Linked DNA regions of Homo sapiens. The protein of the gene in region 1 purifies or fractionates together with the protein of each later gene. This does not show direct contact. Each region holds a gene or a part of one and is shown in the gene's direction. Other genes may lie near its edges.

Evidence for each region.
Region 2: the proteins of CNOT2 (region 1) and TNKS1BP1 purify together in Homo sapiens (affinity purification with mass spectrometry; 5 studies listed by BioGRID and IntAct, with this or other methods). This does not show direct contact.
Region 3: the proteins of CNOT2 (region 1) and FHL2 purify together in Homo sapiens (affinity purification with mass spectrometry; 2 studies listed by BioGRID and IntAct, with this or other methods). This does not show direct contact.

Annotation. Positions count from the first base shown.
Region 1 is NC_000012.12:70,246,320-70,250,069, forward strand, and holds part of CNOT2 (CCR4-NOT transcription complex subunit 2), read left to right. Parts: intron 1-3,750. UniProt on the Homo sapiens protein: Component of the CCR4-NOT complex which is one of the major cellular mRNA deadenylases and is linked to various cellular processes including bulk mRNA degradation, miRNA-mediated repression, translational repression during translational initiation and general transcription regulation.
Region 2 is NC_000011.10:57,304,352-57,308,101, reverse strand, and holds part of TNKS1BP1 (182 kDa tankyrase-1-binding protein), read left to right. Parts: intron 1-3,750.
Region 3 is NC_000002.12:105,396,936-105,400,685, reverse strand, and holds the start of FHL2 (four and a half LIM domains protein 2), read left to right. Parts: upstream 1-1,634; 5' UTR 1,635-1,844; intron 1,845-3,750. UniProt on the Homo sapiens protein: May function as a molecular transmitter linking various signaling pathways to transcriptional regulation. Negatively regulates the transcriptional repressor E4F1 and may function in cell growth.

The DNA of each region.
Region 1 (3,750 bases):
ACAGGTTATTTTCCTGAGATTTCAGGAAAATATACCACCAAACATTTATGATGTTATTTGTTACCTGGATCTGTAGTGGATTTTGTAACACAAAGAGGCAGAATATCCAGGGTACCAGGTAGGGCAGTTTAGGGGCAGAGTTAATATGAGGTGTACTGTAATGTTTGAGTGGAATTACATACAGTGTTAATCAAGAGATCTAGTGCTATGGTAGAACTTATTCTGCTTGATGATACAGGTGACTGTTCTTCCTTACTAAGAGCAGTTTCTACCTGTGATACTTAAAGGGATTGAATTTCACTGTGACTTATATCAGATATTTTGAAAAGAGCTGTGCTAAAGTTGATGTCATTGTAGAAAGTTTGCCTTGAAGTGGAATGAAAGTTAGGTTTTTATTTCTTTGGTTTTTCTGTTTGACATCCTTTGATTTCTATTTTAGAATTCAACTCTTATGACTAATCATGCTGATGTGGTTTGTTCATTTATTTTCTTTGTCTATACTATTAGGAATGTCCTGGAAATAGAATTTGTACTGTGTTTTCTGAGAGCTTGTTCTCTGAAATACAGATGCAAATCTGTTGGTATCTGTTGGTATATCCCTTGGGGGTGTGCTGCATTATAAAGTAATAAAACAGTTTACAATGTTTGCTTTTTGTCAAGAGCTTATGACATATAATATGGAAATACAAAAAAGTGAATTATTTAGGAAAAAATGGGAAATTTTTCCTTTTCTGGGCACTTCAGGGTTTTGTATATGCGTAGACTCAGGATCTAAGTCCACTTAGATATATAGTTAGATATTTTGGACTATTTGCCACTTAACCCTGCACATTTTCTTTTCCTTATTCTTTTTTTTTTTTCTTTGAGACGAAGTTTTGCTCGTCGCTGAGGCTGGAGTGCAATGGCGTGATCTTGGCTCGCTACCACCTCCGCCTCCCGGGTTCAAGCGGTTCTCCTGCCTCAGCCTCCTGAGTAGCTGGGATTACAGGCATGCACCCAGCTAATTTTGTATTTTCAGTAGAGACAGGGTTTCACCATGTTGGTCAGGCATGTCTCAAACTCCTGACCTCAGACGATCCGCCTGCCTCACCCTCCCAAAGTGCTGGGATTACAGGCATGAGCCACCACGCCCGTCCTATTCTTTTTATTCATGTGTATGTTATTGCATGTATGTGTGTGGGGGGCAGGTGGTAGTGCATATTTTATGTATCTTTCACTTCTCTGTTGTTTGATGAACTTCTTCCATACTCCTCTTTGGTATCACTTTCTTCATAAATCTTTCCTGACTCCCCAAATCCTTTGCTGTATTGCTTTTTACTCTTCAAACTTCTATTATAGAATGTCACACTGTATTGTAATTTACTGTCCATCTGGACTGGGAGCACCTGAGAGGTATGGCCTTGACTTGTTTATGTTTATGTTTTGAATGCCTCTATAGTGCATAATACTTAATAGGTTCTCAATACGTATCTATTAAACTGAACTGTTGCTAGATTGTCATTTGACAGTGCTGTTTCACAATCCACAGATCTGAAGCAACAGATTGGAAAAGTGGTGGGGAGAATAGCTTCCTGTATTCCTTCACTTCCTTGAATCCTTTCTTACAGTTTTGCTTCTTAATTACATATGGAAAAATAGATAACTAGCTTCTTAGGGAAGTGTGTGTAAAGTTAGTATGGAATTAGGGAAGGATGTTAGTAATAGAGTGATTAATACCCTGTTTTGCTTCTGGCAGGATGTTTAGATCTGTATTTCTTGCATTTCTCGCTGTATTTTGTATGGTTATGGCTATTATGTGAAGGAGATATTTTGTATTTGTCTTTACAAGGTATCATGTTTACCAGTACTTACCCATGAGCTCATATTAGATTTGGGGCTTCTGAAGATAGATTCTGTTTTTCTCACCTTTTTCCTCCTAATGCCTGGCCCATTGGTTAGTAGAAAGCAGGATTTCTCTAGTTTGAATAAAATTGCCCTTATGGAAATAAGGTGAGATGTGTCTTATTGGAGGTCCAAAATTTAAAAAGCTCTGAAAGTTGATCATTTCTTTTGTTTTGTTTTGAATAAGCAAGGTGAGAAAATATCAACTGGAATTATACCTGTGAATTTGATTATTATTATCTTTCTTAATCTGATTTTCCTACATTTTCATATGGAAATGTTCACGTGTTTGACTGCAGGTGTTGCCATTGGCAGATGTTACATCATATATGATACATACAACATTTTACCTTTCTCAAATCTGAAACTGTGTTTTGAGAAACATCTGGCCTTTATAGGTTTGTTTAAGAGATTGTGAGCCAATTTTCTGCCCATTTTAGAGATGTAGAAATCAAAACAGGATAGATGACTCTCAGAATTGCATTTTAGTAGATATGCTAATATTGATAATGATTTTAGGAATATTATGTCTTAATTGCCTGTATATGTTCCAGAGACCTTTTAGTGACTAAGAGCTGCCAAAGATACAGAGTGTATATTTTTAAAAAGGGAGTATGATCCAGTACTCAGGACACCAGTCCTTTCTCTGCCTTTTCTGAATGGAAATGTCTTTCCTTATACGTGAGTAGATGAAAATGCACATTTAGTAAGTTTTTACTAAAACTTAGTAAAAACTAATGATAAAATGAGTGAGGGAAAATTATGTATCCTGGCAATTTAGGTAACAGTGAGTAGACTTGCTTGTTTTTCAAACATATTGATATACTATTTTTCCATTTGTGTATTCAGATGTTGAAACAGCTCCAGTTTGTATTAGCATCTGGACAAAATGTAATGACTGATTATGTAATACAATGTGTTTGAGAGAGGAGCATTTGGTTTTGTGTCATATCTGGCAAGAATGTGCTTTTGTATTACTTTCTACATTGTAAATTATAATGCCTATCCTGCATACAAATTTTGTATTTAGTTTTCTGCTTGTAAGAATCTTTCATAGGTCAGTAAAATAAAATATTAAGTTTACTATGCCATTCCAAGCACCTGACTACTTTTGGCTTTGCTACTTAATATTTTTAAAATGTTTTACAGCTTGCAGAGAGGACTTTTATATACATTATCTTAATTTTATATATATTAAAATAAGTTTAAAACTTAGCATTTATGTTTATAAACAAGCTATTTTGGTCAATAAGAAAATTAGAAGTTGGGAATTATGAAGGCCGTTTTCATCTTCAGACTGGACTCAGAGTCTAATTTCTTTCTCATTTATTTTAGCGCTACTTTATAGAGAAAATCGTGATTTATTAAATCAAATAGATGTTAATGGAAGACTTGTTTTTGTTTGCATCTGATCATCTTGCAGATCCTGGATATTTAATCAAATTGATGCAGAAGTTTGAAAGACAAGCAGCAGTAGGAAATTTTTGTTTCAAGCTTGACTTTTCTGACAATATCCAACAGCTGCTCATATTTTTAAAAATTAGAAACATTCACTGAGAAACGTTAAAAACTTAAAAGCAAATACTGTGTTATAATGAGAATAGGTAATAACATATCATTGATGCTACACTTTACATATTATTGCACCATTATTCTGAGGTAATCATATGCCGAACAGATTACTGCACAAAGTAATGCTTTAGGGGTGTAGTTTTTATGGGAATGAACATGTCTGGCCTGAAATTAGAAAAAAAATTGGAGCCATAATCTTTCTAATCTATGCTTGCTTATGAGAAATTCTAGGTATATTTATGTCAGGCCAAACTATTTGCTACAGCAAACCGGTTAACCTGACATCTGAGATAGTCT
Region 2 (3,750 bases), on another chromosome or scaffold:
GCTTGGATGGTTTCTGATGGGTTCTACTCTTGTACACAGTAGCCGTTCCCCAGGCCTCTCAGCCCTGAAGCCACAGGTGGTTTCATAGGTATAGGGCAGAGAATTCCGTGTCTTCTTGGCTGGGGCCACCACAGCCAGGAGTGGAGTGGACAGTGGAACCCACGGGTTCTCAAAGAGGTTAGGTACTTGGTGCTTCTTGCCTGTCCTGTCTTGAAGCCTGGAATAGCAAGTTCAAGAACCTGAAGGGTATGGGGACCTGGCCCCATGACCTTGGCCTCTGTGCAAATTTGCTGAAAGAACTTTCCAAAGGCTTTGCAAGGCAAGCACAGTCTGTTTCATGGATGTTTTAAAACCAGCTGAGATGGTTTTGCAGCTGAGAAACGTGCTAAAAAGGCATTGCATCCGTTTTGTTAACATTTCCATCCATTGAGATTCGCTTTTATTCCCTTTAGTGAGCAGAAAATGTTACCTTTTCCAGCCCCACAGTGGGAGCTTCTCACTGGGTATGTGGGGAAGGCAAGGGAAGTGTGGGGCAGGGGCTTTTATAAGTGGAAGGGGTTGGTGGTGGGAGGAGAGGAGCAGGAAGGGGCTAGAGCATATCATGGTGGTCTTGGGGACTCTGGAGAGGCATTTGGGATGGAGGAGGAGAAGGGAGAGAGGAAGATGGGCCCAGTGAGATGCCCAGGGGGATTTGAGGAAGTGGAGCTTCCTGACGACTCAGGCTGTTGACGGGGTGGTGACGGAGCACAGGGAACCACTGAGGCTGCATTGAGGACTGCAGGGACGAGGGGAGGGCGCAGGACTAGGAGTTGGGAGGCCCTTGTGGTCCTGGGCAGGTTGCTGGGCTCTGAGCCTCAGTTTCTCAGGGTTTGACTCAGGAAGTGCAGAGTTCCAGCTTTAATGTTCTTGGTGCAGGGGAGAGTCCAGGCTTGGCGTGGTTGTTCCTGATTTCTCTTCCTGGGACTCATAGAACTTTGCACACCCCATGCTTAACCACACGTCTTACCTCATTGATCTTCACAGCTGCTCTGTGAAGCAGGAAAGTGATTTTTATCCTCTCCGCTGGAGGGTCGAAAGGTGGTGTGACCCCTTAAGGGCAAAGAGTCAGGAGTACCTCTTTCTCACTTGTATATGTTAACTGCTTTCAGGTGTGGCCACTGTGGGACCACTGCCCCCCTCCCACCCAACCCCCCCCCCCACCACCACAGCTCTCTGCCTTTCCGTTCTGTGTGGGGTGGCTCTTAAGAAGTGGAAAGTGATCATCTTGTTCCCTTAGTTTAGGATGGAGGGAGGTGGGGCGGGGATTGTGATGGGACTAGGTTAGGGGAAGAGGAGGATAGTGTCATCATTGTGTCTTTAAAACACCCAGGCTTTTGTGGTTGTGTTACCGTAATCTGGCCAGTGTTGACTTTAACCCGAGTTCAGGGGTTAGCCGTGATGCCATACAGGTGAGCCTCATTGTATGCAACAGAAAGCGTGGCTCCTAACAGAAAGCACGGCTCCTCAAAAAGCCGAACGAAAACAGTTGCTTTAGAGAGGAGTTCGAGGGGCTTGTTTGAATTTTATGCTTTCGGGCAGCCTTTTCTAAAATGTGTCCTAAAGAATACCAGTCTGTGAATATGTTTGGAAAATGCTGGGTACTCTGTGGCCGTACAGAAGACTTAGTCTGTATATTAGCATATATTAGTACCTTAAAGACAAGTAATGCAGTATTTTCCAAGCTAATTTGGCTAATGTCCAAGAACCTAGTGTTCTGAGCAGGGAAATTCTGATGTAGGGAAATTCTACACTATGGGCACTTTCTCTTTTTTTTTTTGAAACGGAGTCTTGGTCTATCGCCCAGGCTCCCAGCCTGAAGTGCAGTGGTGCGATCTTGGCTCACTGCAACCTCTGCCTTCTGGGTTCAAGCGATTCTCCTGCCTCAGCCTCCTGAGTAGCTGGGAATACAGGCGCACATCACCACGCCCGGCTAATTTTTGTATTTTTAGCAGAGATGGGGTTTCACCATGTTGGCCAGGCTGGTCTTGAACTCCAGACAGACCTCAGGTGATCCACCCACCTCGGCCTCCCAAAGTGCTGGGATTACAGGCATGAGCCACCATGCCTGGCCCACTATGGGCACTTTCTCTTTAAAGAAAATTTTGGAGGTTCCCTTTGTAACGAGAAGTCCTTGAGAATAGCTCAGAGGGGTCTGGCTCTGGGTCCATCTGCCAGGCTTGCGTTCTGATTCTGTCACCACCTCTGTGACCTTGGGCAAGTTTGTTCTCTTCTGCGGGCCTCCGATTCCTCGTCTGTAAGTTGGGAGTAACTTACTCCCAGTACTCATGGGGTTTTGTTAATTGTTCCTCACAAAAACTAGGGAAACTGAGACCCAGAGAGGCAGTGTGACTTGCACCGGTTCCCACGGCTGGTGGCTGTGGGTTCTTCTTGTCTCCCTGGGCCCAAGCCGTGCAGTCTTCTCTGGGCACCCTCCCTGTCTCTCTGGGGTCAAGGTCAGCTGCTATTTCTCTAGACACATCTTTCCAGCTTCACCCCTCCCTCATTTCAGGTCTCAGAACACTGGGATATTCACGTTTTGTAGTTCCAGCGCCATGTTTGCCTCTGGAGCAGTGGTGGAGGGTGGGGTGGGATACCGTCTTGGTCCTCAGGGTACTCTAAAGTTTAGACCAGGTGAAGGGTGTAGATGCGACAAGATGAGGCACATCCTCTCTGGCCAGGGACCCGTGTTGAGGATGATAATGACTATCCTAATAATTTGTTGTATTTGTCAAGTGCTAACTATGTGTTAGGCACATATTTCTGCCAACAAACTAGAACAGTTTATGTACTTTTATTATCCCCATTTTACAGATAAACTGAGGTTCAGAGTGGGACAAATAACTTGTGGTCAAAGCCACAGGCATAGGAGGAGACAGAGCCTAGCTGTGTCCTGGAGTGGCAGGACTCAGTCCCTGTGTTCCTAACTACCCCTCTTTCCTGCTCCCATGCCGGGAGGGGCTCAGCTTATACATGATCTGGGTGCTTAGGGGTAGGAAAGCTGCTTCTAAGATGGGGTGAAGGGCGAGTGGGGTTTAGTCCGGCGGGGTGGACGTAGCTGCACTTTCTTGGGTTTTCCCCACTCGCCACTCTCTGCTCCTCAAGGCCACCTCCAGAGCTCACTGACCTCTGCCTGAGTGGCTTGGGCCACCTCTCGCTTTAGGAGTGGATTTTTTTTTTTTTTTTTTTTTTTGAGACGGAGTTTTGCTCTTGTTGCCTGGGCTGGAGTGCAGTGGCGCGGTCTTGGCTCACTGCAACCTCCACCACCCGGGTTCAAGCGATTCTCCTGCCTCAGTCTCCCCCAAGAAGCTGGGATTACAGGTGCCTGCCACCATGCCTGGCTAATTTTTGTATTTTTAGTAGAAACAGAGTTTCACCATGTTGTCCAGGCTGGTCTGGAACTCCTGACCTCAGGTGATCCGCCTGTTTTGGCCTCCCAAAGTGCTGGGATTACAGGCGTGAGCCAGGGCATTTCACATCTCTTTAGCTCATGGGGCCTGCCCTTAGCCTTCTTTTGCCCCACCCCAGGGAGAGGCTTTGGGCCTGGCCTCTGTAGTCTGGGTGGGGTGCTGTTGCCACCCCCTCCCTCCAAATTCTCCCTGATTTTAAGCTGGCTGTCAGGGTGAGCTGGCTTTGGCCCCCAGCCAGGGCTGCTCCCAATTCTGCTGCCTTGCTGTACTTCTGCTGCCGCCACTGCCTCCTCCCCCAATGTCT
Region 3 (3,750 bases), on another chromosome or scaffold:
TAAAATATAAGACAAAAGGAATCAGAAAGAAGATAAATGCAGAATTAATGTTTCATCATTTTAGGGCTTGTTTTTACAAACTGAAGCTTAAGACTCACCATTTGAGAACTAGGAGACCATTTCCTAATTTGTAACGATATCAACAACACATCTAGGTAGCTGTCAGGGGCTGGGAGCCTTTTCTACACAAACTTTGCTCTGAATTTCAAAATACTAGCCTGTCTTGACACTTAGTGGAAATTCAGGTAGGGTGGCCTTAACTCAGGTTCTTCAGGAAAGCGTCCTGTTTCAGGGACACAGTGGGGTGGGGTCGGGGGAGGGCTGTATTCCGCACATCTAGTTCTGGCTGGGCTTATGGCAAGTCTCAGTCCTCTGGAGTCACCTGAGTGACTGAGGGATGAGAGGCATTTCTGATCCCGTAATATACTTACATGGCTTTGCCATCTACCACATCCCAGTTCAAATCTCAGCTGGCACAGTTACCGTTCACGTGGCCTGGAGCAAATCTGAGCTGAACTTTCCTCACCGTAAATCTGGTAAAAATCTTTACCTTAAAGGAGTGTGGATCAAATGAGATACCAGGTAGAGCTAGTGCTCACCGAGTGGAAGCTAAGGTGATGAAGCCCCTTTATTCTCAAGTTCTGTGATTCCATGATGGAGACCCATGAGGCCTACCAGACGGAGAGTATCAATTAAAAGAAAGCAATCACGGAGTTCTTCCCGCCTTCTCTGGAGGATGTATTCCTATGAGCTGCCCCGAATGTTAAAAATAATACACCTGCCCCCAAAGTGCCGAGGACGCCTTTGTGGTCCACCTACTCATCGTCCACCGGTTTCTGCAAGTGGACCGGTTACCTGCTCAGGAGCAAATGTTTCCATCACGACGCACCCTCTCCCAGGGATGGGCTCAACCTGTGCTCTCCCTGCGACAATGCTGAACAGTGCCATCTGTCCCTACCCAGCGTCAGCGTCACGCAGAGGGCCCGGGCTTGGAATGTGGGAGGCACGCTCCCAGCTCACTTTGGTTTTCCCGCCCTGGAGGGGAATCCAAGATGTCTAACTAGTCTTCTGGCCCCGAGAGGGAGAGGTGGGGATAGGACCTTCCTTTAGTCCCCTCCGTAGTGGAACGAAGGATTCTTTATGGTCATCTGTGGTGTTCATTTCGTAAAGAAGCATCTGCAGGGTAAGAAGGAAAAACGTCCACCTTGCAAATATATCCCAGGCACATGCCTCCTGAGAAGTGACCCCCTCCTCCCTCCGCCTCCCCCGGCACGTCCTGGGGCTTCTCCAGTCTCCCGCTCCTGGGACCAGGCAGAGATCCCGGCGTGGGCAGACCCCTGCCACCGCGCCCAGGCCTCGTCCGAAACTCGCGCCCGAGAGCCCACGCCGGAGGCGACGCTCCCGATAACTACTGTGCTCCCAAGACCCGGAGGGCACGAAGAAAGGAGCCCTGGCAAACAAAGGGTACGGGCCGGGACCGCCGCAGCCCGGGGCGGGGGCACGGCAACCGCGAGGCCTGGGGGCGCCCGCCCCCCGCGCCCCACGCCCGGTGCCAGCGAGCCGAGGCGTGCATCTCCTTATATGGTCAAATGACACGGCGGGGTTTCTCGAGGGCGGGAGCTGCGCAGCGCTCCACTCGGCCGGCAGCGGAGCCGCAGCCACCAGCCGCCCGCGCCCTCCAGCCCCGTCCGGGAGTCCCCGGCCCGCTGCGGTGCCGTGAGTACCTCCAACCCCCTGCGCCCCGGAGGGAGGCCGAGGGGCTTAGCCACCAGGGCTCGGAAGTGGGGGCCGAATCCGGTGCGAGACCCAAGGAGAGGGGAGCAGAGCCGGAGTTGGGGAGACTGGTGAGAGGAGAGCAGAGCTGTGGGTCCGGGAAGACCACTGGGAGAGGGGACCCGAACCGTGCGGGGAGAAGCCGGGAGAAAGGAGTTGAGCTGTGGGGTAGACCCGGGAGAGGAGAGCCGAACCCTGGGGGTTGGGGGTGGGGAGACCACGGGGAGAGGGGAGCGGAGCAATGGGAGGGGTCTAGACCCTGGGGGCGCTGGAGCTCAGAGGAGCCCACCGACTCATCCCCAGAGGGAGGACTGCAGCCCGCGTCCTCACCAGGTGGGGCACCGCCATGCGGGCAGGGACCGGGCGAGCCTGGGTAAAGGCTGGCCGCGGGTCCCAGCCGGCGGCTGCGGGGAGGTGACGCTGTCCGCCTGCTTCCAGGCCCGACTCCCGAGCGGGCTGTCCTGGCACGGTGGTCTGCGCGGGGGAGTCCGGGCCATTTCCCTTTAGTAGAAATAAGTGGAGTTTGCAGTGTGACCTCGCTCCTTGACTCAGGTAGACATTTAATAACTGAACCATTCGGTTAAAACAAAAATGGCTTATTTTAAATGAAAAGATTCTAAGTTTTTCTTAAGTCGCACTCGTGTGATATCTTAGCATACCAGAAATAGAGGGAAGAAAATATTGAGTGTTTTTCTGATTTTAAATGAATCAGTCATATTTATTTTCATATCCTCAGTCGGGTTTTAACTGGAAGTAGGCTAATCCGGTTAGCTGAAATGTGTAGCTGGCTTGCAAGCAGCAGTGTACTTAGACATCACTGAACTTAAGGCCCGCACTCCCTTCCACATATTTTGGAAGGTAATAAATCACAATTTGGGTTTAGAATCAGGAGAACTGTCTTCAAAACACAACTCCCAATACATCTCACATTTTTGGTGCTGACTCTACTAATGAGTGTTTTATAATAATATATTAAAGAAAAGAGGTTTTGCACTATCCTGAAGATGTTTTAGACAAAAAAAAACAAAAAACAAAAAAACAAAAACCATTTGCATCAAGTCTTAGAAGTACAGGAATTCCTAGTCTATCAATTAAACTTTAATAAAACCAAACTCAAAGAACATTTCATTGTGCATTTATATAAAATTTTGTCAAGTGTTACTGGATTTAGATCACCCCCCAGTTTAGAAGATCATCAGTTAATACACAGAATTGTGTTTCCACGGTGTTTATTAGCCTGCCATGGTTTAAAATGCGTTTACACCATAACATGTCGATGAAGGCTAATGATGGGCTTACTACAGACCAGAAACTGTTCTGGGCACATAGGTTCTGTCTCATTTTAGCTCACCGTCTCACAAATAGCCACAGGCAGATGCAGTAGGCTAGGGGATGCCGGGGACTGCATGTAGGCTGCCTAAATTTACATCCGGGTCCCTCAACCTGTGCAGCCTGGGCCAAGTCACTTAATCTCGTAGTGTCTCGGTTTTCTCCACTGGGAAACAGGGACAATGATGTTGTCTTTTTGTTAGGGTTGTTAAGAAGCCTGGACATCATAGACAGTGTATACATATTTGATAGCCTCATTTTTACAGGTAAAGACACTGAAAACAGAGATCAAAGTAACTTTAACTCAGGGTTTCCCGGGCTGTAAATGGTAGCCCTGAGATCTGACCCCAGGCAGCTTAACTGGAGAACCTGAGTTCTAACCACTAAACGCACCACGGGAGGAACATTTGAATATTTATTTATTTTTTTTAACATTTGAATATTTCTATGAGGCCTTATGATGCATACTTTGACCCAAGATTGCGTGTTAAACCATTTCCAGTACTGAAAGATATTTAAATTGCAGTCAAAAACGCCCAATAGAATATTGCCAAAAAAAAAAAAAAAAAAAAACAGACTAGATATCAGGAGTAGTTTACTCCTGTCCTGTGCCGAGGGCCAGTTACTCAGCCTCAGTGACTCAGGCAG